Regions from separate parts of the Homo sapiens genome. Here region 2 is linked to region 1. Evidence: fine-mapped expression QTL. A gene starts in region 1. The other region holds a variant in brackets. All regions are shown on one strand. Distances are between the middles of the regions.

The links. PIP is the estimated chance that this variant, and not a neighbour inherited with it, causes the effect. A credible set is the group of variants that fine-mapping cannot tell apart.
Region 2: its variant is the best candidate, but not a certain one, in a credible set for the expression of LINC-PINT in blood mononuclear cells (TOPMed, PIP 0.68).

The regions. Positions count from the first base shown.
Region 1 is chr7:131,107,313-131,111,706 of GRCh38, reverse strand. LINC-PINT (long intergenic non-protein coding RNA, p53 induced transcript) reads left to right here and starts at 1,782. Exons shown (of 8, transcript NR_170176.1): 1 at 1,782-1,970; 2 at 2,904-3,987. It also overlaps a transcript of MKLN1 not described here. RefSeq lists silencers at 217-276, 1,427-1,576, 1,657-1,706, 3,764-3,823, 3,844-3,893 and enhancers at 1-535, 2,930-3,781.
Region 2 is chr7:130,952,114-130,956,507 of GRCh38, reverse strand. All of the region lies in intron 5 of LINC-PINT (long intergenic non-protein coding RNA, p53 induced transcript), which reads left to right. Among named protein-coding and RNA genes, the nearest start is that of LINC00513, 41 kb to the right of the region's middle. The variant A/G (reference allele first, on the strand shown) is at 2,127.

The DNA.
Region 1 (4,394 bases):
TGAGGAATGAAGATTCTGGGTAAAAGAAATCAAGATGATGTTTTTTTTTTCTAGGCTTTACATTTCAAGGATTGTTTCTCAAATGGCAACTGGCAGTCTACTCCTCAAATGATGACGTTTTCCACAGGAATTACAATTTAATTGGAATATTTTGTTTTCAATGGGAAGCAAAGATTTCTTTCCAAGAGGATCAGTTTGATAATGTTTTACCAGCTAGTGCTACGAGACCAAATATAAACCAGTTCTGAGAAACAGGAAGTGAACTGACTGGTCTAGTCTGAGTGTCCCTGGCAGTGACGCAAATACAGAAATCAAATTAGGAAAACAAGATATGTGGGTGTGAGGCAATCGATAATAATCCAGGATGCTACAACATAAGCAAGAATGCCTTTAACCCGATGCCATTCATTTTAATAACACCCTGAGCAGTTTGATTTCCACGGAACACGCTGGTGATTAGAGAGCAGCAGGAGCTTGGGTTCCCTAGCAACAGCATGTGCTTTTGAGACAGTCATTAGCCTTTCAGTTAATCCCATCAACCCCTTACCTCTAAATGTATGACTGACATAAAAAAAATGATGTTTTAGAAAGTGCTTTGAAATTTCCAGGAGTGCAATGGAAGGGAATAATCATAATTAAAAAGTTGTCTGGAGAACTACACTCCAGTGAAGGAAGTAATGTTCCTACGTGCCAAGCCTGTCCGTATATTTCCCTGCTCTCAGTTGTAGGTTTCTGAATCCCCTGTGGCAAAGGGCAAGGGAGGTGAAATTGTTCAGAGTTTCAGGCAGTCTTCTCACCTAAAGTGAGTAGTATTGCAATGTCTCTTGGAATCATGGCTCTGAAGATGAGGAGAGAAGCGGGATGGGCAGTTTGTGTGGTGAGGAGGCTGGCTGCAGGTAGGCTGGGAGGGAATGTCACACATAGTTTTCTTTCTCCTTTAAGCCGAATGAGGTATGCTGGTCAAAGGAACTTGGGGAAGGAGGATGGTGAGGGGAATGAAGTTCTTCTTCCTATTGATTGTTTTGTTGCACCAGAGGCTGTTTGTCCAAGGCCACTGGCCAAGAGCATTATTTTCGTGGCTAAAGTGAGGTTGGGCAGGTTTCCCATCCCTTTCACTAGTTTTGAACAAGACAACCCAGAAAGCGCAGCAAGGCTCTGGGAATATGATGTGGGTTGGCTTTTCCTACTCAGCTGCACCTTAAAGCGCCAGGCCGATGGGCTGATACTTCTCAAACCCTGAATCATTGCCTCCAGCTCTGTCCTGGGTTCAGGATGCACCACTCCACCCTCTGTGTAGCTTGGGGTCAACTTCGGGGCGTCACTCCAATAGTAATTATTGCTGCGTTTGGCTGGACATCCTTATTACGGCCTGGGTCCCTCTCAGCTGGAAACTGGGCTCCTTCAGTTTGGCTGGGGTGACTTCTAGCACTTCCCGCCGCCCCACCTTACCCCCCTGCGCGCTCCCTTCCCAAGGCGACCACCTGCACCGCCCCACTTACCATCTGCCCCGCGGGGAGGGCCCCCCGGGCTAGCGGAGCCCTCCCTGCTCCCGGGCGGCTCTGGAGGAGCTCGGTGTTTGCCTCTAGCCCTTCGCTACCGGAGGATCAGGTTCCTCCCCTCCTCCCCCTCCAGCTCCGGCCGCCGCCGCCGCCGCCGCCGCCTCCTTCTTGCATGACACAGCAGAACCGCAGCTGCTGCAGCAATTTCAAGCCATCCGCCCAGGAAGCGCCGCAACCGGGACTCGGGAGGGGTGGAGGGGGCGAGGCAGAGGCCGCGGCCCCAGGGGATCCTTGGCCCCACTGTGCACCACACACTCCTTTCCCAGCCCAGGGGCACGCGAACAAAATGAGGCTCAAGCTGACCAGGCCGAGCCGGAGGAACGCTGGGGCTTGGCAGCAGAAGGGATGGGACCAGAGAGAAGGGTGTGGAGGAGACCCCAGTGAGGGCCAGGACATTTCAGGTAAAGAGAGGTAAGAAGAGGCCCAGAAGTCAAGGGCCAGACTGTGAAGGTGATTAGAGGTCAAAAGAGGTAAGGAGGTAGAGTTGCAAAGAAGAGAGGCCGAGCTGGGAAGGGCGTGGGGGTGGGGGTAGCTGCAGGGGAGGGTGGGGGGTACAGTCTTTGGGGAGGCCCGAGCTGAGCCCCCAGGCAGAAAAGGGGCTGAGTTGGGAGGCAAGGGAGGTAGGAGGAAAGGGATGAAAAGAATTAGGCATGAGATAGGAAGGTAAAACTTGGGAGAGATATTATAGAATTAGAAGGGTTGGAATGGAGCTCATTCATCATGGCTGATGAAGTAAACTGATGAGGTGGAGAGAGACAGAGTCAAGGCAAGGCCAAACGAAAAGATCTTCCATCCCACTCTTCAGTTTCTTGCGAAGTTTTTCTTGATTCCGCCAATCCACACAGTTTCCTTTATAAAATGGAAAAGCATGAACTAAAAAACCCAGAAATAGCTATCTGGCTTAGATTTACAGGATAAAATCTCCATGTCTGTAAAAACTTTAAGGCAGAAATTTGGGATTTATGGTACAAACCCTTTAAGGGACTGTGAGTCAGTAATACCCACAGCACTCAACATTGTGAGTTTCCACACATCCCTGGACTTGAGTGAGTCTTTCCAAGTGTTTGTTAATGGTACAAATGATGACAAAATTAGTGGTTCAAAAATATTAAAGTGCACATGCTTTTTGCTTTCTCTATGTATACAGAGATTACATATATGTATACTTTCTAGCGTCTAGCAAGTATGGTATGGCTAGGGATAATTATGTTTTTCTGATTATTTTGTTTCCCATCAAACACCCCACGAATTTTACAGCAGACCGCCTTCTTGTCACCATTTGAAAGAATGTGGTCAGAAAAGTAATGCAAAAACTGCCACTTTGGTTTTGTCTGTACCTTCCAGGTCATATCTCCGTACCTCACTTCCTGACACAAACAAGTTTTCACTGTTGTCAGCAACAAAGCCCTAATATAGCTGCGGAAGAGAAAAACTGCATTGCATTTTGCCTCCTGCAAGCATCATCAACAGTTACTGGAGGAACGTAATTCCAGAAAGCTTGAAAGCCGTGGTGATGGTAATTATGTATCAAATGCCTGGTTCTATTTCTGTTATTATTGTTTTGTCATTTCTGTTTTCCCAGCGATCTGACTGAACTCGCAGAGGGACAAATCCAGTTTTTCTTTTTGACTTTTGTCAAACTAAATCAGGCCTGATAGAAAACTCATTGCTCTCCGGGGAAACAAAGTAGGAGCCACGAAATGTCATTTTAACAGAGCGTGGGTTTGGTGACTGTAGGAAAGGATTTGAGGACGCTCCTTCTGTTCGGCTTCCTATGTCATGAGCACAGGCTCCACGCACGCACAGACACCACGGCTCCCGGATGCTGTGGCTCCCCGATCGGGGCTCCTGCAGCGCCAGAAGCCCCTCCGGGATGCTTCGAGGGGCTCCCGGTGGGTGGAGGTACGGACGCCGCTGCGGCCGCCGCCGCCAGTCCTGCTGCTGTTGTTGCTGCTGCAGTCACGTGGGAGCCCCTTTAAGTTTCCATAGAGAGGCCTCTCTGGTGTCACATGATGGACATGATATAATGAAACAACATTGTGGAGAGGAAAGCATTAGGGGAGCCCACGGCTACAAAAACAAGTGAGTGAGAAGAGGTGGGAGGAAGAGAAACTACGCCACCTCCCCTGCAGCCGAGTGCACGCAGCAGCCTGGCGTGACAAGTGGGCGACGCCGGGGGGCAGGGAGCCGGGGTCCTTGGCCCTGGCCGGGGACCCCACCGCCCACCGCGCGGAGGACAACTTTTAGCCGGCAGCCCAGACCAGCGCGGCACCTGTCTCCGGAGTCTCCACCGCTCCTCCCGATTCATCCCAGGGAAATTCTCAAGAATACGCTCTACAAATCTACGTGCGCATCATTTTCACCTCGCGTCGCGCCCGGGAGGAAGGAACGAGGCAAGGAGCTAAAGCAGCGTGCGTTCAGCCCTGGGGTAAGTTCGTCGGGTGGGGAAGCCGGTCCCGCAGGACTTTGGGATGGGAATTTTGCTCTCCTTTGCGATCTCAGGGCGTGAAGAAGGCGTCCCCTCCGCTGCCGGCGGAGCTGATCGGCTGGCTAGTCAATTTCCCCTTAGCACGCCCCGTGCGCCCACCCTCGCTCAGCCCGGGGCCCCCTCGCCGTCCCCCGGAAGGGGTCTGCGGTTCCTGGCCAGGACGTTCGGAAGGCGAGCGGGGGAAGGTAGGGCTGTCGCGGGAACCCGGCTTGTGAGAGCGATTTCGCCATGTTTGTGTTGCTAAGAGCACTTTTTCCCCTTTGCTGTGGCTTGATGCCACATGGCTCCTCCGGAGCTGCTGCCGGGCTGAGAGAGTGTTTTTTTTTTTTTTTCAATGTCCGCATTCC
Region 2 (4,394 bases), 160 kb after region 1:
TAAAACATCCAACTTAGTCATTTAAAAAAATCTTTAAGTAGTGGTACTTGTTCCTGATCTTAATACAAATTAAATGTGGATACGCTTGCTTGATTTCTTCCCTGCCCTTTAGCATAAGAGCTTCTGAGAGAATTTCCTATTCTTCCCTTCTGTACTATTTATTTCTTGGGCTATAGACCCTCATACTCCCTCTTCTTTTCCTTATAAGAAGCAATTCACATTCTCTTTTCCCATCTCCTTTGTGGAAAAAATCTCCAAACCCTTGTTAATTATCCCTTTGTCATGTTCGTCAGGTCGGTCCTGAAAGTGTCAGCAGACACTGTGAAGATGGGAAAAGTAAGATGTTGACTAGTTCTTTAACTTTTGTGACACAAGTGGTGTCCGTTTGTGTCAGAAGAAAGCCTGAATTGATGTTTCCATCTCATGCTTCCCTCCTTTTACTTAGAAAGCAGTTTCTTTGTGAAAAATCCCTGGAGATCTTTCTCAGAGGTATTCCACAGTTAGGGCCAATTACTGCAACATGATGGAAGCTTTAGGTTCTTCTCAGGCCTAGCCTCATTTCTAGCACAATACTAGGAGGCTAAAATCTATCTCTAAAATTTGCAAAGTAATAGTGATGGATGTTAGCTATTTTTAATGTAGCTGCTTAGAGACAGTTGAAGATAGTAAGGGTCATAAGGGCCTTCTCCTATCTGACCTCTGTACCCCTGTAAGTTGTTTACCAGCTTAGAGCCTCCTGTACAGTTCTAGATCAAAGAGCAAGTCCTCTGAGGCCATGCCCTTGGAAGCAGAGATGGAGAGTAGTGAAATCTACTTAGCTCTGAGGGTGTGAGCTCCCAGGCAAGCAGAACACACTTGGGATTTTATTCCTGGTATTGACCAGAACATCTATCATCAGCCTATGCCAAACACCCCCTTTCCACACCTTGTTTCTCCCACCTATTTCGCATAACTTCCTAGAGATGAAGAATGTTTCTGAGTGTGGATTGTCAGATGTCTGCTGAAAAATGGTGGGCCTAAAAAAAACATTCTGTGACTGCAAGAATGTAGAACACTCCCACACTGGTTCTGGGACCTGGCCTATTGGTTGGCTATTACTGTTGAATGAGAGGAGAACCAGCAAATTCTTTCTTTTCCTCTGGAGGAAATACCTTGTATGGATGGTCCCCCAGAGAAGAGAGAGCCATGGCTAGTTGTGAACTGAAGTAATCCAGATACAGGCACCATTTGATGGGATCTAAGTGTGCGAATCAAATTGCATTCTTCAGGAGGACATGGGGATGTCAAGACAATTAAGGAAATCCTACCATCCCTCCATTTTAATTGATGTAAAATTTACATGCATTGAAATGCACAGACATTCAGTGTACTCCTGTTCCCAGACCCCAGTTAAGAGAGAGAACGTTTCTATCACCAGGTTTCCTCTTGCCCCATTCAGTCATTCGCCACCCTCACTGGCAAAAACTTTCTGCTTTCTATCATTGCAGTCTTGTTCTTGAGCTTCCTCTAAATGGAATCATGCAGTATATACTCTTTTGCGTCTGGCTTTTTTTTTCACGCAACAGTTTTATATAGTTGTCTGTATCATTCTTCCTTTATTGCTGGGTGGTATTCCATTGTATGAATAGACCCAATTTTAAACTCTGTTCTCTTGTTGACTGACATATTGATTATTTCCCCATTTTTGGCTACTATGAATATTAAGCTGCTGTGAATGAGTTTTCTCTCACTCTCACTCTTTTTCTTTTCTTTCTTTTTTTATTTTTTATTTTGAGACAGTCCCACTGTGTCACCCAGGCTGAGCTGCAGTGGGGCAATCTCAGCTCACTGCAACCTCTACCTCCCAGGCTTAAGCGATTCTCCTGCCTCAGCCTTCTGAGTAGCTGGGACTACAGGCACGCACCACCACACCTGGCTAATTTTTAAAATTTTAGTAGAGATGGGCTTTCACCATGTTGGCCAGGCTAGTCTCAAACTCCTGACCTCAAATGATCCACCAGCCTCGGCCTCTCAAAGTGCTGGGATTACAGGCGTGAGCCACCACACCTGGCCCACTCTCACTCTTTTTTAGGTTTAATTGCTGCACCGTACACTAGGTGTATGTGTACCTCTGTAAGAAACTGCCA[A/G]GTCATTTTCCAAAGTAATCGTACCATTTTACACTCCAACAAGCAATTTATGAAAGTTCCAGGTGACCAGGTATCTTAACATTGTATATTGCTGGTTTTTCTACTTATAGTCGTTCTCTTGGATATGAAGTAGTATCTCATTGTAGTTTTCAATTTGCATTTTCTAGATGAATCACATATACTTATTGGCCATTTGTGTATCTTCCCTTTTGAAGTGTCTGTTCAAGTCGTTTGAGTCTGTTTTTCTTTTGCCTGTTTTAAAATTGGATTGTCTTATTATTTTGGTTGGTAGGAATGTTATACATATTCTGAATAAAATATTCTTGTCAGAAGTTTATAATGCAAATATTTTGCCAGTCTATGGTCTACCTGCTGTTTTTTAAAAGTGTCTTTTGATGAGCAGAAGGTTTTAACTTTGAAATAATTTCATTGATCAAAAATGTTTTTCCTTTGCGAGGCCAAGGCAGGGGAAGATCGCTTGAGCCCAGGAGTTTGAGAGCAGCTTAGGTAACATAGCAAGACCTCAACTCTCTACAAAAAAATAAAATATATTTTTAAAAATTAAAACAAAGATTTCTATATTATCTGTATTTTTTGTTTCCTAAGTAATCTGCCTCCCCAGGATTGTGCAGATATTTCTCTGTGCCTTCTGTTAGAAGACTTATAGCTTTAGCTTTTATGCTTTAGTTTATGATCTATCTCCAGTTGATTTTTATATATGGGGTTAAGTAGAAGTCAAGGTTCATATTTTTGCATACATTTTCCCAGTTGTTCTAACATGGATTGTTGGAAAGACTTTCCTTTTTCCATTGAATTGCTTTGGCGCCTTTCTTGAAAATCAGTTTTCCATATATGTGTGGGTCTATTTCAAAGGAACTTAAAGAATGTTTATATAGACCACATGCGGCATGTACTCAAGTCTAGGAAATAACAGTTCACATTGGTCAACCCTCAAGTGACTGGCATACTCTTTAACTTCTATATCGTGAAACATTTATGTCAAAGATCACTGATAGAAGCTGTATGTGGTGGGAGGCATTTTTTGCTTGTTTTTTGAAGCTAACCCTGCTGAAGCCTCCAGAAGTTCCAACATTCCCATGTTAAATGTGATGTTCTTATCTGCACAGAAATAGACCATAAAAAGTGAGATCTAGCCTGAGCCTGCAGGCGACTTCAAGAAGAACAAAATTAACTTCACTTTTCTTATCTGAAAACTTGGATATGTGTGGATTCAAAAATGAGTGATTTGGAACTTATTATAATGAAATGTGGGCCAGACAAAAAATAAATACTCTTAAGAAAGATGTTTTTCATAATGTAAAGATGCTTGTAAAGGAAAAAATTGTTTTAATAACAAGTATATTGTATGCAAAAGTAGATCTGATTTTAAAGAAGCCTTGTCTATGAGTAGAATCTCTACTTGGAAAGGTTTTTGTAAACGGTTTGGTTGAGCATATTTATTTGAATATAGAACTTTCTTTCTTTTAAAAGATTCCTTGATTTGGAAACCAAAGGCTGAATAGAGTAGGAAATGCACCCAAATTATTCTGTTAGAAAGGTACAGTAAATGGTGATGCTCTCTTTTGATACCCTAAATTTTAGGACTTTGAATTTGGTGCTTTCATGGTGTGGTGGTATAGGGAAGTGATTAGCGCGGGACTCTGAGGCTGGGCTGCCTGGATTGGAATACCAGCTCTGCCACTGAACACCGGCGAAGGAATCGACGTTCTTGTCTCTCTCCCTAAATGGGGAGAATAAGAGTACGTGCCTCATGGTTTGGGTTAAAGTATACAAAAGGCTTAGAGCTGTGCCTGGTTCATAGTGAGCACTATGTAACTGCTGGCTGGTAATAATATATTAACTTTATAATAAAGGAACACCAAAAAAGGAATGAGTAAAGGAAAAACATATAAAGCAAAAGTGCATTCCACTCTGCTGTGATTCAGCTGTCTCACTCTTCATAATAGACTCCCCATTTGGCTGAATCGGTCACGTTTTGTTATTTAATTCCCATTCTCTCAAAAGGATATAGAATTAAAGTGTTTTCTTTTGAGCTCCTTGGGAAATGCATGCTCTGAAAATACCCGGGGATGCTTCATATTCATTACCAGAATTATTTGTCTCTACAAAAGGACTTTGCAAGGAAACGCATTTCAAGTTTACGTCGTCCTCTCCACTCATTTGAAATACCACCTTCCCAAGCCTGTGTTTGGACTTGTATCTTTGTGCTCAGCTCCTGGCCCCTGTTTCTGCTTTCTCTAGCAGTTT